Homo sapiens: one gene and its partner. The protein of the gene in region 2 purifies or fractionates together with the protein of the main gene of each other region. This does not show direct contact. Each region holds a gene or a part of one and is shown on either strand. Other genes may lie near its edges. The genes, in order: CA10 and WDR89.

Region 1 (3,829 bases), on a different chromosome or scaffold from region 2:
ACTCTTTGGTTCAATAATTCCATGACTCCCACATGGTATTACGTGGATCATAGTGATTGGTCCATGGGTCAGAGCTAAACTAAGCTGGACCAGTTTGGTTTCTTTTCTGTGAGACTATGAGGGCCAGGTGGCTGGACTGTTTGCAGCCATGTTCTGCCACAGGACTGTGAGGCAAAAGAAGACGGTCTCTAGCAGGAGAGAAGAATGAAGTGAATGTGTGGTGAGAAGAGGACAACAGAGAGAAAGCACTTCTGGGGTTCCCATTTCAGTGAATTTCTGATGTCAATTTCTGATTTTAAATTCTCTAAGATGCCCTCGTAGCTCTCAAATAAATGCTTTTTCTAAGCTTAAGTGGGGAGTTACTGTTGCCTGTCACCCAGTGGGTCCCATTCAATACAGATAGGTTAAGGAACTTCAAATTGTTCAAATGGTGGTCAGGTGGGAACACATATCCCGTCAAGGATATTGGCTTCTGCTTCCTTTGCTCATCTCTCCTTTAATTTGTTATAGACTCCCACAGTCGTAGAATGTCAGAGCTGGAGCAAACTCATGTAATTTATCCCCCTCTCAATAAAGAAGAGGAGTGTTCATTTCATAGAGGTGGGTGACAGGCCTGAAGAGCACAATAAGCCGTGTAGCCAAGCTCACACAGGAGGACCCATCTGCCTCCCATCCAGTTCTGATGAGTACTAACTCTGTGAGATGATCCAAAAAAAACACTGCACATTCAAATATGTGTGCAAAATACTACATATCATACCACTTCCTCTTGAAGACTGACACATATATTAGCATTTAAGAAGGACCCCAGAAATCCTTCAACAATGGAATCTATTTAACTTTTTAAAACCCAACTTTTTCAAATGCATAATGACATCTTCCATTTTGCTTGCTTGCTTTCTGAACACTGTAGTTGTAGAATACACTCTGGGAATTAATGGCTATCTTTTCCCACTGAGACAGTTGAGATGCTTCTATAATTAGCTCAGGCTAAGCCTTTTGGATGCTGGCTCTTTAAACCCAGGCATATGGGTTGAATCGTGTACCCCTGAAATTCATAAGCTGAAGGTACTGGTAACCCCTAGTTGCTCAGAATGTGACCTTATTTGGAAATAGTCATTGCAGATGGAATGAGCTAAGACAAGCTTATTGGGGTTAGGCTTTAATGGAATACAGAAGGTGCCTTTATAAAAAGGGGAAATTTGGACACAGAGCCTCAGACACAGGGAGAACACCTTATAAAGATGGAGGTAGAGGCTGGGTGTGGTGGCTCACGCCTGTAATCCCAGCACTTTGGGAGGTCGAGGCAAATGGATTACCTGAGGTCAGGAGTTCAAGACCAGCCTGGCCAACATGATGAAACCCCATCTCTACTAAAAGTATAAAAATTAGCCGGGCGTGGTGGCACGTGTCTGTAATCCCAGCTACTCAGGAGGCTGAGGCACAAGAATCGCTTGAACCCAGGAGGTGGAAGTTGCAGTGAGCCAAGATCACGCCACTGCACTCCAGCCTGGGTGACAAGAGCGAGACTCCATCTCAAAAAAGAAAAAAAAAAAGATGGAGGTAGAGCTTGGGGTGGTGCTTTTAAATGCCAAAGCACGTCAAAGATTGTCAGCAAACCACTAGAAGCTAGGGGAGAGGCATGGAACAGATTCTTCCTCACATTCCGCTGAAGGAAGCAACGCTGCTGACACCTTGATCTTGGACTTCTAGTCTCCAGAACTGTGAGGCGATAAGTTTGTGTTAGTTTAAACTACCCAGTTTGTGGGACTTTGTTATAGTGGTCCTAGTAAACTATTATAATAGGCACTCCACATTTCAGTGATTTTTTTTTAACATCATTCTTCTCCATTAGCTAAATGACCAGAGAGAAACTCACCTGCATCCTGGTTATATAGACAGGTTTGTTCATTATGATCCAACTTGCTGTCTCATAGCAGGGTGGGATAGTCATCGACCCATCGTAAGTGATGAAACTAGAGGTCTCTGGATATAGTTCCTCTATATTAAGCCCCTGTAGTAAATATGCATCATCTAGAGAAGGAAAGAAGACTTAAAAATTAGGTTTCTTGAGAAAGGGATGGTATTGCTGACATACATACATACATACATACATATACATATACATATACATACATATATACACACACAGATATATATGTATTTCTTTTGGAATTCCAGAAGACTCTATCTGTCAGAACAGGCTGCAGTAACAAGCAGTTGTCCCCCAGATCTCGGTTGTTTTAAGCAATAAGAATGTATTTCTTGCTCACACACATGATCATTCCAGGTTGGCTGAGGCTTCCCTCCATGTCATTGTCCATGCTTTGGGACCTAGACTCTTAGAGCAGTAAACACCTGGACCTGTGCGGATCACAGTGACAGAAGCGAAAGCATGGCGAATGTGTGTTGGTTCTTAAAACTTCCATCCCAGAAGTGGCACACATCACTTGTGCTCATGTTTTGGTAGCCAAAGAAGTCACATGGTTAAGGCTGATGTTGGGGATGCGAGGAAGCACATTCCTTCCACAGGATGGGGCCCTGAGCATTGGTGAGCTGTAAGCAATGCGTTCTACCACAGGGATTGTTTGAGGAGTCCTTGATTCTAGTCCCTGAGATCTGGACTCCTAGGCATTACAGGTATCATGAGATGGACAATTAAAGCTTCTAGACCTGTTGAAATTCACCTGGTGACCATTCTCACTTAAAACAACAATAAGAAAATATTTTTGGATAGAAAAGTAAATCAGGCCAAATCCTACCATGAGATTCTATGGTTAAGCTCAACAACTGATTATTTTGTGTGTGTGTGTGTGTGTGTGTGTGTGTGTGTGTGTATTTTTCTCTCTCTCAGGTCTATGCAGATAGCCTTTTCTCTTACACCAATTTGAGGTATTCATACCCATATATCTTCTATTACTAAATACAGTAATTCAATGGTAAAAATGACATAAGTACATCACAGACTATATGGAAAAAAGAAAAAACAATTTCAGTCATCTAAAACTGTTACTATTAGCATTTTGGTGTGTTTCCTGTTAATTTTTTTAGTCAATGTATTGGTTGTATTTTTGATAAAATTGTGTGTATTGGAGTTTTAAAATATCAGTTAATTGCAATGTATCTCTCCTCTTCTCCCCTCTTCATGATCCTTCTTCCTTTCTTTTAGCACGTGATTGTTCTCTTCTGCTGGCTTCAAAAATACCATACTTAGTATTCCCATTTTTCTGGCCATTCTCTCTCAGGTTTTGTTGCTGTCTCCTGATCTTCTACCTGCTTCTCTCAATGATGCAATTCCCCAAAGATCAGTCCAAGGCTCCCTTCTTTTCTTACTCTATCCTCTCATCTGAGAGTAGCTCATCTACATCCATGGCTTCACTTGCCTTCTGCATCCCAGTGATTCCAGATCTATATCTCTAGAGGTATCACATCCCCAGGCATACCATGAGCACCCATCACTGTGGCCAGTCCAGGAGACCTGGAGAACACATGGCAGGGTCCCAAAGCCTGGCTGGCCGAGGGATGAGACTGACTCTCCAGCCCCATGGATGCACACATGTTCTCTCGTCCATGTGTCTAACTCCCAGTGGGAAAGTACTCATTCTTCAGGGGTTGAGGGAACCTCTTCAGTTTAGTATTGTGCACATATATGGTAAAGGAAGACTTTCACATATGGCTGGAACCTCACATTGACTCAATAAAATGAGTCAGGCAGATAGTAACATCCTCCACTGACAAGAAACTAAAGATCAGGGAGGCAAAGTGGGCTGCCCAAGGTCACAGGGCTAGCTGGTGACTGCAAAGTGGAAATTAGAACTCAGCTCTTCCG
Region 2 (3,829 bases):
TAAATTCAAATAGGTAGGAATCTGTCCTCAGAACTCTGAAGGCATTGATCCACCATCTTTTGTCATCCAGATTTGCTAATGAGTCTAACACAACTGTAAATCTGTTCCTAAGTGATTTTTTTTTTCCGGACACTTGCAGGATTTTCTATTTACTCTGAAACTTCACAGTGCTATGCCTTGATGTGGATCTTTTTCATTCATTACACTTGACACTCTGCTGTGCCTTTCAATCTAAAGATTGAAGTTCTGGAATAGCCACTATATTAGTCCATTTTCACACTCTATAAATAACTGCCCAAGACTGGGTAATTTATAAAGGAAAGTGTTTAATTGACTGAAGAGTTCAGCATGGCCAGGGAGGCCTCAAGAAACTTACAATCATGGGGGAACGCAAAGGGGAAGCAAAGCACCTTCTTCACAAGGCTTCAGGAGAAAGAGTGAGGAGTTAAAGGGGCAGAGCCCTTTATAAAACCATCAGATCTTGTGAGAACTCACCCACTATCAGGAGAACATCGTAGGGGAAACCACCCCCATGATCCAATCACCTCCCACCAGGTCTCTCCCTAGACACATGGGGATTATGGGGATTACAATTCGAGATGAAATTTGGGTGAGGACACAGACAAACCATACCAGCCATTTATGTTATTTCTAATAACCCACTGCCCCCATTTCTTTTTTAACTTTTTTCACTTTCTAAAACTGTTAGTCTGGTTTTGACCCCTGTATTTATCTTCTGTGGCTTTCATCTTTTCTCTTTGTCTCTTTCAGTTCTACTTTCAGGAATATTTTCTCACCTACATCTTCCAACACTATTAATTACTTTTGAATTTTAAATATTTTTAATTTTAAAAAGCCCTATTGTTTTAATAGTTTCACTTCCAATTGTTTTATGAATGCGATTTCTCCAGATATCTTTCAAACTAATTTTTTTATTCACTAGATAGCACTGTCTTATATTTTAAAGATTCTGAAAAACACAATTTTTAACGCTTATGTAGTCCGCCATCAAAACATCAATGTACTGAAGATTTTAAGCAGCATGAGGCACCATCACGTTTTTGTTTCTTCCCCCTCATTTCCCCGCCCCTACCAGATCTGTTTTTGATGTTTAGCCTAGAAGTAGCAAGAAGGATGAACTGAAGCAGATTAGAGATCGAGCTGGTAATCCAGATGAGAAATAATGAAAGTCTTCTCTAGGGTAATAGTGGTGAGGTAAAGGCAAAAGGATAGCTGACAGACGTTAGGAGGTGAAATGGCACAGGACTTGGTGAAAAACTGGTTAGGAGAAGAGGAAAGAGAAAAGCCCAGGTTATCCTCAGATTTATGGTTTGGACAACAGGAAGAATAGCAATTTCTCCAAGTCGAGTCCTATTATAAATATTTTCATTTTTGTATTTCACTTTGAGTCTCAATTTACCAAGATAACTTCCTTTCAATCAGCAAAACACCTGTTTACTACTTACTAACAATATTAAAGATGCAAATATTTACGAAACATATTTTTCTCACTTTACATAGATGCCTATCATTTCATTTGTAAAAAAGGTTAATTCTATTTACTCATTAAAATACTTACATTTAAATACTCCAGCATAATACATTAGGTGTATTAAACATATAGATGCTCCTCAGATGAAGAATATAGTCTAATCTGGTTTTATACACAATAAAGACAATTTAAAATGTAAAAAACTGGGCTTAAAAAATGCAGCCAACCACCTGTTTTATTAAGTTTTACCAAGTATTTCCTTCTAAAAAGTCCTTATCGGAGCTATTTCTTTAAAGCCAACATTTACTACATTAACAGATGGGTTCTTTAAATAAGAAATTTTACTTTCAACTCACTGATTTTATACTTAGAGGCTTTAAAATTTTTTAGAATATGTGAAGACCGGAATTAAACCATTCTCACCATATTTTTCCAGGACTGTTTGCTAACTGGCTTGTTTTTACATAAAGCTTTAAACATGTCTACCATGGGTAGTAAACAAGAAGGACTATTTGAAACTATAAAACCTACCAAACAAAGTGCCAAATGCATTATCACTGCTTTTTCCTTCTTTTATAAGAATCATTACTATGAACTCGTACTCGTTGGTGCACAGAGGATGCTATTTTCATACTCTCTTTCTTTGTAAAGGTCTTCTCTATAGCTCCAGGTTTCCAAAGTAACAACTGTGCATCTTCTCCTCCAGTCAACAAAGAATCATCTTGCACATTCCAACAGAAAGAACGGACTGTAGCAGCATGCCCTCCCTGAAGGCTAGTCACATGGGTCAGTCCTGACATGCTGCAGTTCATCAAATGAATCCTTCCTTTGTTTGTTCCTCCAATAACATGCAATGTGTCTGTCTTTTCATGATATAGGCCACCAATCAAATAGTCCAAAGCATCTTCTTTCATGTTAACTACTTCTCTGACATCCTGGATGTTCAAACGTGTAACTGGTTCATCAGTGTCCAGATGATTAAGATCCCACCAATAAAATCCTTCATCATGTGTCATGCAGTAAATCTGTTTATAACCTTTCCCAGACCAACCAATACAGCTTACTGATGAAATTGAGTTACAGGTTGTAACCAGTGCATCCTCCTCATTATCAATATTAATATCAAATACATTTACCAGGCCATCAGATGAACCTGAGACTACCATGTTGGGATTGCTGGGATGGAAACGTACTTGAGTGACATCATCACTATGTGTCTCTGAATATGCACCAAGTGAGTCTTTAGTTGTAGATAAATTCTGAGAATTCATCCTTGCATCCCAAAACACCAACAATGCATCATCATCAACTTTTTCTGTACCAGCACAAATAATATGATCATTACAATTAATATCAAAACTGATAAAAATATTGGAAGGGTAACCCTTGAAGAGCTGAACAGGTTTTTCTCTGGCTACTCGAGCATCCCAGCATTTCACAGTGCCATCAGTACATGCTGAATATACACTGTCACAGGAATTTGCAAATCTGACTCCATTAAGAAGTCCAGGATATCCACTAAATTCTCGTAGTACATTTAACCTTTCTTTATCATATATTCTGATTGATCCATTAGAACATAAAACAGCAACCAAGTTTTCCTTTCCTGCTTGGACAGTCTTTGATGTGTCTATACCAAGAAGGTAAGTGGGCTCTTTGGTTCCTAAGGAACATTTAACAATGTGCAGATTAGCAAATTGTTCCTCAATCTTTTCCATGTCAACAGCAGCATCCAAGGGTAGTAAAACTCTGTAAAAAATAATAATAATAAAAATAAAAATTAATGCTTAACAAGGGAGACACATAAAAAAATTTAACTTGAAGTTTCTCTAAAATTGCAATTAAATCAAGAACATTTTCCTCTGAGGGCTGGCATGAATCAATCAATCAACAGAAATGTATTCTAATACTATAATCATTTCCTTCCTATGATGTAACTAAAACTCAGTTGCCTTCTAATTCAATCACTCTTTAATACTGAATTCACTACCAGGAGTGGTGGCTCACACCTGTAATCTCAGCACTTTGGGAGGCTGAGGTAGGAGGACTGCTTGAGGCCAGGCATTAGAGACCAGCCTGAGCAACATGGGGAGACCCCCCCGCCGTCTCTTCAAAAAATAAATTAGCAGGGCATGGTGGCCTATGCCTGTAGTCCTAGCTACTCAGGAGGCTGAGGTAGGAGGACTGCTTGAGACCAGAAGTTGAGACTACAGTGATCCATGATCATGTCACTGTCATACAGCCTGGGGAATAAAGTGAGATCCTGCCTCAAAAAAGAAAAAAAAAATGCTGAATTTACTATATATATTTTATGCTAGTAAGAGAATAAAAAACATG

Evidence for each region.
Region 1: the proteins of WDR89 (region 2) and CA10 purify together in Homo sapiens (co-immunoprecipitation; one large-scale study listed by IntAct). This does not show direct contact.

Annotation. Positions count from the first base shown.
Region 1 is NC_000017.11:51,633,976-51,637,804, forward strand, and holds part of CA10 (carbonic anhydrase-related protein 10 precursor), read right to left. Parts: intron 2,035-3,829; coding exon 1,880-2,034; intron 1-1,879. UniProt on the Homo sapiens protein: Does not have a catalytic activity.
Region 2 is NC_000014.9:63,596,733-63,600,561, forward strand, and holds the end of WDR89 (WD repeat-containing protein 89), read right to left. Parts: intron 3,242-3,829; coding exon of another isoform or gene 3,211-3,241; coding exon 2,047-3,210; 3' UTR 307-2,046; downstream 1-306.